Linked DNA regions of Homo sapiens: region 2 is linked to region 1. Evidence: fine-mapped expression QTL. A gene starts in region 1. The other region holds a variant in brackets. All regions are shown on one strand. Distances are between the middles of the regions.

What was found. PIP is the estimated chance that this variant, and not a neighbour inherited with it, causes the effect. A credible set is the group of variants that fine-mapping cannot tell apart.
Region 2: its variant is the best candidate, but not a certain one, in a credible set for the expression of IMMT in monocytes (Quach 2016, PIP 0.87).

What each region holds. Positions count from the first base shown.
Region 1 is chr2:86,193,653-86,197,652 of GRCh38, forward strand. IMMT (inner membrane mitochondrial protein) reads right to left here and starts at 1,810. Exons shown (of 15, transcript NM_006839.3): 1 at 1,686-1,810. The coding sequence starts at 1,730. RefSeq lists enhancers at 1,311-1,360, 1,481-1,660, 1,681-1,800.
Region 2 is chr2:86,149,637-86,154,159 of GRCh38, forward strand. It overlaps IMMT (inner membrane mitochondrial protein), which reads right to left. Exons shown (of 15, transcript NM_006839.3): 11 at 3,924-3,938; 12 at 1,661-1,884. Among named protein-coding and RNA genes, the nearest start is that of SNORD94, 16 kb to the left of the region's middle. The variant C/CAAAAAA (reference allele first, on the strand shown) is at 2,804.

The DNA.
Region 1 (4,000 bases):
GACCCAAAATATTACTTGAGAGAAGCCAAAAGTACAAAGAGCCTCATAAAGCAGCAATGTCAAATGCTACAGAATTAAGGAGATGGTGAGAATAAACCAAAGAATTTTACAAGACAGCAATTTCAAGAAGCTTAGACATCTTGATTCAGAGCTATAAAAGGGTTCATTTTTTATTACCAAGTTTTAATTAGTTTTCTTAATTCCCAAATGGGATCCCAAAAAGTTGACTCTGAATTAACTGAAAAGGAGGTCATCCAGGTGGGCCTGGTCTAATCACATAAGCCTTTTAAATCTGGGTCTAGAGAGGAAAGACCAAAGTAAAAGAAATTTGGAAGTCAGAGAGGCAAGCTCCTGGTAGCCTGCACGAAAGCAAACATCAATGTTATGAATGGCCTCTAGAGGCCTTGAGGCAAGGAACTGTAGGCAGGCTGTAGAAGCTGGGAGCAGTGGCTGGCAAGAGGCAGCAAGAAAAGAAGTACTTCAGTCCTGTAACTGCAAGGGACTGAATTCTGCCAACAAACTGCATGAGCCTGGAAGAGGACCCTGATCTCCAAATGAGAACCACAGCATGGCTAATACTTTGCAGCCTTATGTGACCTGGAGCGGAGAACACAGATCATCCGTGCCCAGACTTCTATCCTACAGAACCCGTAAGGTCATTCATGGGTGTTGTTTTAAGCTGCTAAATTTGTGGTATTTGTTACGCAGCAATAGAAAACTAACACAGGTTCGTTCCACTTTCCTATGGAAGGGGCTGCTTCTGTTACCTAGCAGCAAATAGGAAGAGAAGCGAACTTGAAAAAACAAAGCTTGACTTTTATGATCTCTAACTCACTATTCCTAGGGATTCTGTTCAATTACTGCTTGAGTCACAGTACTTGGTTTGCTATCTACATTTTGCCAAAATATCAACTTCCTGAAAATCATGAGCAGTGGAAACAGGCTTTTTAATTTTCAATTTTAGAAAGTAACTTTGGCAATTACGCAAAACTAGAAGTAACTGGGTATTTAGGCTCCTTGAATGTCAAAGTAGTCCCAGCGCCTGGAGACACAGATCCCTGCCCTAATCTCAGAAATGAGCCACAAGGTCATGACTCCTGTCTTTCCTTGAAGACCAGGAGTTTCAGCTCCACAAATGAAAATCTTTCGCTTTTGTTTGGATTAAGAATAACTCAGAAGTGTTCTCAGCTGCGAAAAGAAAGGCACTCCCTCCCAGATAATTACAACCTTGACCCCTAAAATGTGGACTCTCGCTAGAAGTCCAGGCACCTCCTTATTAAGGATGCAACAAGCCGCCGCTCCGCTCGTCCTGACGGGAACTGTAGTTCTCGCCCGTCGACCTTCAGCACTGAAAACCTATCGCGCGCCCAACCGGCGACCCAGACGCCAGCAGCCAGGATTGGTCCTGGACGGGGGCAGCGCGGCCCTGATTGGACTACATGCCCACGAAGCCGCGCCTCCCGCTACTCTCCACACCCCACCCCGCTGCTGCAATAACCTCAAGTCATCCCAGTCCGGCGAACTCCCTGGTGGCTGCCTAGCTGCCCGCCCGGGCCTCTCCCGACGAGGGTGGCCCTGAGGCTCGCCTTTGTCCTGGAGGCTAGGCAGCGACCAAGGCTCCCCCGTTTTTCGCTGACGGTTCTAGTTCAGCCTCCTCACGCGCCTCCGGGAGCCCCAGTGCTCACCTGGGCGGCGGCGGTCACACCCGATAACTGACAGGCCCGCAGCATCTCGGTCAAGCGGACGGCGCTGCTGGTGGACTCGAGCTGCCGCGGCGGCGCGAGTTAAGTGGAGGCGTGCTTGCGTGTGTGCGTGCCCGCGTCCGCGCCCGGCGCACCGGAAGCACAGCGGACGCCACTGCGCACGCGCGGCCCCTTCTACCGTCCCCGACTCCGCGGCTCTTAGAGGGTGGGCTGTGTCCCGGCTGCGGAAACGCCAACTCCAGGCGATTGGCGCGAAGGAGGCGAAAAGGGCGGATTCCCTTTCCGGGTCGCGCCCGGGCTGCAGGTCCTTATCCGGAAGGGGTTACTAGGTGAACACTGCCGGAGGGAGAGCGCTCTGAAATCCATTCTTCAGCCGCACGTGGAAAATGGACAGCTGTGACTCTTAAAGAGAATTAAAGCAACAAAGCATCTCAGCCTGCTCTATGAGCTGGATATTTCGTAGGAAGGAGCCGATTTGGCGAAAGTTACGTAAACAATGGAATTGTCTCAGTTTGCGCCTTTGTTTCGTTTGACAGCCCTCCAGGGAGTCATAGTGATTGCTGGAGACGGTGAACTAACACTGTGGGGACCCTTGTGCTAAACGTGTCAAGTGGCACAACAAGGATAGGAACACGGGTCCTTTGGACTCCACAGCTTCTGCTCCTTCCAGATTAAGCCACACTGCTTTCTCCAAGTTGTTACTGTAGTAACATCATTTTGGCTGCAGTTTGTGGATGGGTTGGAAGATGGGAAGTCAATGCAGAAGCACCGTTGAAAGTATTCCACTGGGCAGGGCGCGGTGGCTCACGCTTGTAATCCCAGTACTTCGGGAGGCCGAAGCGGGAGGATCGCTTGAGCCCAGAGGTTCGATACCAGGCTGGGCAACACAGTGAGACCTCGTCTCTATATAGAAAAATAAACAAACAAAAAATTTAAAAAGAAAAGTAGGGCCAGGAGCTATGACTCACGCCTGTAATCCCAGCACTTTGGGAGGCCAAGGCGGGTGGATCGCCTGAGGTCAGGAATTCGAGACCAGCCTGGCCAAAATAGTGAAACCCCGTCTTTACTAAAAATACAAAAAATTAGCTGGGCATGGTGGCGGGTGCCTGTAATCCCAGCTACTCGGGAGGCTGAGGCAGGAGAATTGCTTGAGCCCGGGAGGCGGAGGTTGCAGTGAGCCGAGATCACGCCATTGCACTCCAGCCTGGGCAACAAGAGCGAAACTCTGTCTCAAAAAACAAAAGTATTCCATTGATTCTGTAATCAAAATAAAACACGTTAAATATTAAGCATGGTATTAATACTCCATGTATACTCCAGAATTAATATGTTCGTATTAATACTATTAGCATCTTATTGCAATATCGTGGAAACTAACTTTTCTATCTTCTATTGGATTTGCAAAGTATTCCAAGTCTTAACTGGGTAATTTATTACAATATGTATTCTCTCTAGAGGTAGACTGCGCTATGACTTGTAGCATGGAGAGATGGACTTGAAAATTATCTGAAAGCAATAGTTATGTTTGTATATGTTCTATGTTCTATGGTTTTTAGGGGACTACAGTAATTACATATGTTTCATATCTCTTTCACTTAGCTTCCAGAGCAGTCTCCCGTTTTCTTTAGTAATTTTAGCAATTGAATTGCTGCCTCCCTGCCCACTGCTGTCATGCCCAGTGGTGCCGGTGTGATGACTTTTCTAACACCCTTGTCTTTGAACTTCTTAATGCCAGTGAACGCTTTCATCCTGCTTCAGTCATGTGGTGCCCGTGTGATGACTTTTCTAACACCCTTGGCTTTGAATTTGTCAATGCCAGTGAATGTTTTCATCCTGCTTCAGTCATGTACGTCACAGCCACAACTTGCGCCTGAACATCATTAGCAACCTCTCTAGCTTCAAGATCTCAAACCTCAAAATTAGCCTCCCAACCCCTCATAACCTACGTGGAGAGTCCTCACTCTCCACTTGGAAGTTGTCAATATTTTTGCTTTAAAATGTTATCAGGCAGGCCAGGCGCTGTGGCTCACACCTGTAATCCCAGCACTTTGGGAGGCTGACGCGGGCGGATCACCTGAGGTCAGGAATTCGAGACCAGCCTGGCCAACATGGTGAAACCCCGTCTCTACTAAAAATACAAAAATTAGCTAGGCTTGGTGGTGCGCGCCTGTAATCCCAGCTATGTGGGAAGCTGAAGAAGGAGAATCACTTGAACCTGGGAAGCAGAGGTTGCAGTGAGCCAAGATCACACCACTGCACTCCAGCCTGGGGGACAAAGCGAAACTCCGTCTCAAAAA
Region 2 (4,523 bases), 44 kb before region 1:
GGAGGCCAAGGCAGGTGGATCACTTGAGGTCAGGAGTTCGAGACCAGCCTGGCCAACATGGCAAAACCCCGTCTCTACTAAAAATACAAAAATTAGCCACATGTGGTGGCATGCACCTGTAAGTCTAGCTACTCAGGAGGCTGAGAGGCACAAGAATCACTTGAACCTGGGAGGCAGAGGTTGCAATGAGCCAAGATTGCACTACTGCACTCTACCCTGGGCCACAAAGACAGACTCTGTCTCAAAAAAAAAAAAAAAAAAAGAAAGAAAAAGAAAAAATAGTGGAAGCTGTTAAGATGACAGCTTGGGCTAAGGTGGTAGTAATGGAGTGGACAGATTTGGGATTTATGTTGGATGCAAAACTGGTAGGATCTGTGGGGCAACTGAATATGAGTTGATGGAGGAACAACAAAGCATGATTTGGGCTGGAATAGCTGAGCAGATTGTTCAACTCAGTTTATTTAGAGAGAAACAAGTTGAGGGGCTGGAAGACAGGTTGGAGAGAATAAATAAATCTGTTTGGAGCATGATAAGCATGAAATGACTACTGAAAATCAAGCTGGAGATACCAGGTAGGCTGCTGGATAGGAACCTGAAGCCAAGGCAGAGGTCAGAGCTGGAGATAGACATTTATCAGGTATAGATGGTATTTAAACTTCCAAGTCACGGGACTCAACAAGAACACTTAGAGACAGTTCAGATGGAGAAAACGTTTCAGAACTAATGCCAGGTATGCCACCATTTGAGAGGCTGAGCAGAAAAGGAGGTTAAGGAGTGGCCAGCAAGGTAAGAGAAAGGCCAGAAGAGTATGGTGTCAGGGAGCCTAGGGAAGAAATAGTTTCAAGAAGGAAGGAGTGGCCAGTAGTACTGCTAAGAAGACACAAAGGTGGGATGAGTAGTTAGGTTCCCAAATCAGCCTGTGGACACCTATTTAATAAATGGTGTGCCCAGACAGAGGGCTAAAGAAGCTATTTCACCTGTTTTTTAACCACCAACCACTTAACAACAATAGCAGAGAAAAATATACTCAGACTCCAACAAAGATTCGTTCAGCACTGCTTTAAGGGACAGAGGCTCAGCTCCACTGGAAAGATGAGCTAGATAATCCTGGATACCAGTAGCTTATTCCTTTCTTACACTTCTGCATCTGCTCAACATAAAGGAACTCTGCTCGATCACTCCTTTCCTAGAAGTTCTGATGAGGGGAATGAGGACCTAAGCTCCATTCTAAAGGTCAGCTGGCATGACTTATATTCAATATCCTAAAGCCAATGACTGTCAGTATTTTTTTTTTTTTTTTGAGACAGTCTTGCTCCATCGCCCAAGCTGGAATGCAGTGGCACGATCTTAGCTCACTGCAACCTCTGCCTCCCTGGTTCAAGTGGTTCTCCTGCCTCAGCCTTCCGAGTAGCTGGGATTACAGGTGCGAGCCACCACACCCAGCTAATTTTTGTATTTTTAGAAGAGACGGGGGTTTCGCCATATTGGCCAGGCTGGTCTCGAACTCCTGACCACAAGGGATCCACCCACCTTGGCCTCCCAAAGTGCCGCGATTACAGGCATGAACCACTGCACCCGGCTGAGCCAGTATTATTTCTACAAGTAAACAATCAAGTTAGAGTCACTTTAAATGTTAGGCAACAATTCTCATTTCTCTTACCTTTCTGTCCTGTTCAGCCTGTATTTCACTTCTGTGATGTTCTAATGCTTTTGCTACTGCAGAGTCAAATGCCCGCTTTTCTTCCAGCTTTTGTTTCTCCAAGGCTAACGTGATGTGCTGCTTTTCGGTGGCCTTCTGTTCTGCCAGCTCTCTGTTCAGCTGATCAATACGACGATGTGCATGAGCAATGAGGGAGTTCAGATCATCAGTAGAGAGCTTGTCAGCTAAGCAAAAGAGCATGTTAAAATATTAATGATGTCACTGAAATTATACCTCATTACAAGGTAATCTGCATCAACTGATTATAATTTAAGAGCAGTAAACGAAAGTAAAACTTAGCTAACATGAAAAGAGATTTAGATTCCCCAGTTCAATCAGAAATTGGCTAGTGTCCAATAAGGTATTTTCAACCCCTGGCAAAATTCAGGTAGGCCTTCAGATAATCAGTTGTTTTCCAGGAACCCTCTTTTAATCTGAACTAATTATAAATGGACTTTCTCATTTACTGTAACTTTGCCTTTAAAGACAAAACTTATATATACAATCACTTCTATATTTTCTTTCAGGCATAACTCTGATTAGTTATAACAGGCATCCAATTGAAGATTCTTTTCTGCTAAAACTAAAAATCAAATTCAAATTCTCTCAGACTTTTCCTTAATAAGTTTTTTTACTTTTCTTAAACACATATGATCTAGATTAAATCCCAACACAGCAACCAGAGCTGTCCATCAGAATCACTGCAAAGCTTTTTAAAATACACCCAAAGATTCTCATCTAGGCTTAAACCAATGTTTGTTTTTTTTTAAAATCTCAATCCAAAAATGTAGCAACACATACACAGATTAAGAATTATGGCTCCAGCCAGGCACAGTGGCTCACACCTGTAATCCCAGCACTTTGGGAGGCCAAGGCAGGCAGATCACCTGAGGTCAGGAGTTCGAGACCAGCTTGGCCAACCTGGTGAAACTCCGTCTCTACTAAAAATGCAAAAATTAGCTGGGCATGATGGTGGACACCTGTAATCCCAGCTACTCGGGAGGCTGAGGTAGGAGAATTACTTGAACCCAGGAGACAGAGGTTGCAGTGAGCCGAAATTGCGCCACTGTATTCCAGCCTGGGCAACAGAGCAAGACTCCATCT[C/CAAAAAA]AAAAAAAAAAAAAAAAAAGAGAGAATTATGGCTCCACCGGCCAGACACAGTAGCTGATGCCAATAATCCCAGCACTTTAAGAGGCCGAGACGGGTGGATCACTTTAGGCCAGGAGTTTGAGACTAGTTTGGCCATCATGGTGAAACCCTGACTCTACTAAAAATACAAAAATTAGCCAGGCATGGGGGCACATGCCTGTAATCCCAGCTACTCAGGAGGCTGAGGCACGAGAATTGCCTGAACCCAGGAGGCGAAGATTGCAGTGAACTGAAATTGTGCCACTGCACTCCAGCCTGGTGACAGAGCAAGACCTTGTCTCAAAAAAAAAAGAATTATGACTCCATCACTTCTTAGTCTTTTGGCTAAGATGAAGTGAAGAATTATGGCTCCAACAGCAAAATATGGAATGTAGGAAATTCTATATGACTAATGACTCAATTTCTTAATAAATACATTGAAAAGCAAAAAACAAAAAGGGGCAAGAGATTTATTGACTAAACTCAACATGTGGAACGTCTATGGGTTATCGATTCAAATAAAAACTGTAAAGACTCATTCTATGAAATAATAGGGGATATTTTAACACTGAATGGACATTTGGTGACTAGGGAATTGTTACTAAGTTTTAGGTGTGATAATAGTATGGTGATGTTTTTGAAACATACTGAAAGTATTTACAAGTGAAAGAATGTGATATTTGAGTCTGCTTTCTATATAAGCTGAGGAGGAGTGGGAATAGATGAGACAAAACTGGTCATGTGCTGATGGCTACAAAACTGAGTGATGGGTCCTGGAAGTTCTTTAGTTTTCTTCTTACTTTTTAATGTTTGAAATTCTCCAAAGTAATCAGTTACAATCCATATTACACACACACACACACACACACACACACACACACACACTTCACATCTATAGGATTCCAATCACTTGATGAAACATTTTCATTCCTGAGAGCATTCGGATGCCAAAAATATCCAATTCAGATTTATCATGTGACATAATTCTACTTTATATCTATTTAGATGGCTTTGTGTAAGAATCATAGGCACAACAAAAAGACTTTAGTCTCTTAATACCCAAAACAAAAGACTTTAAACATGAAATATACATAACACTCACCTAAGTCTGAAACACCTACAAAGGAAAAAATAGAACAGTTTGAAAAAAAAGAATGCACATACTTTAGTTATTGATCATTAAACAGAAATATCTAAAAGGAAACAAGAAGGAATCGGAGACTAGTACCAGGAAAAGCTATTTTAATACTGGAAAATGAAATGATACGGCTATTTTCTAAAATTTAAACTGTAAAACAAGACAAATCAAGGTAAATAACATTTTAGAAAATAAAAGAATCATTGATATTAATTGTGGTTTTGGTTTCAAAGGACTTATCTCTGTTTCACAGTAATCAACTTAAATTTTTTGTTTTTTTGTTTTGAGACAGAGCCTTCCTCTGTTGCCTAGCCTGGAGTGCAGTGGTACAATCTCAGGTCACCACAACCTCCACCTGCTGGGCTCAAGCAATCCTCCCACCTCAGCCTCCCAAGTAACTTGGACTAGAGGTGTATGCCACCATACCCGGCTAATTTTTGTACTTTTTTGTAGAGAAGGGGTTTTGCCATGTTGCCCAGGCTGGTCTCAAACTCCCGGGCTCAAGCGATCTGCCTTCCTCAGCCTCCCAAAGTGCTGGGATTACAGGCATGAGCCACTGCACCC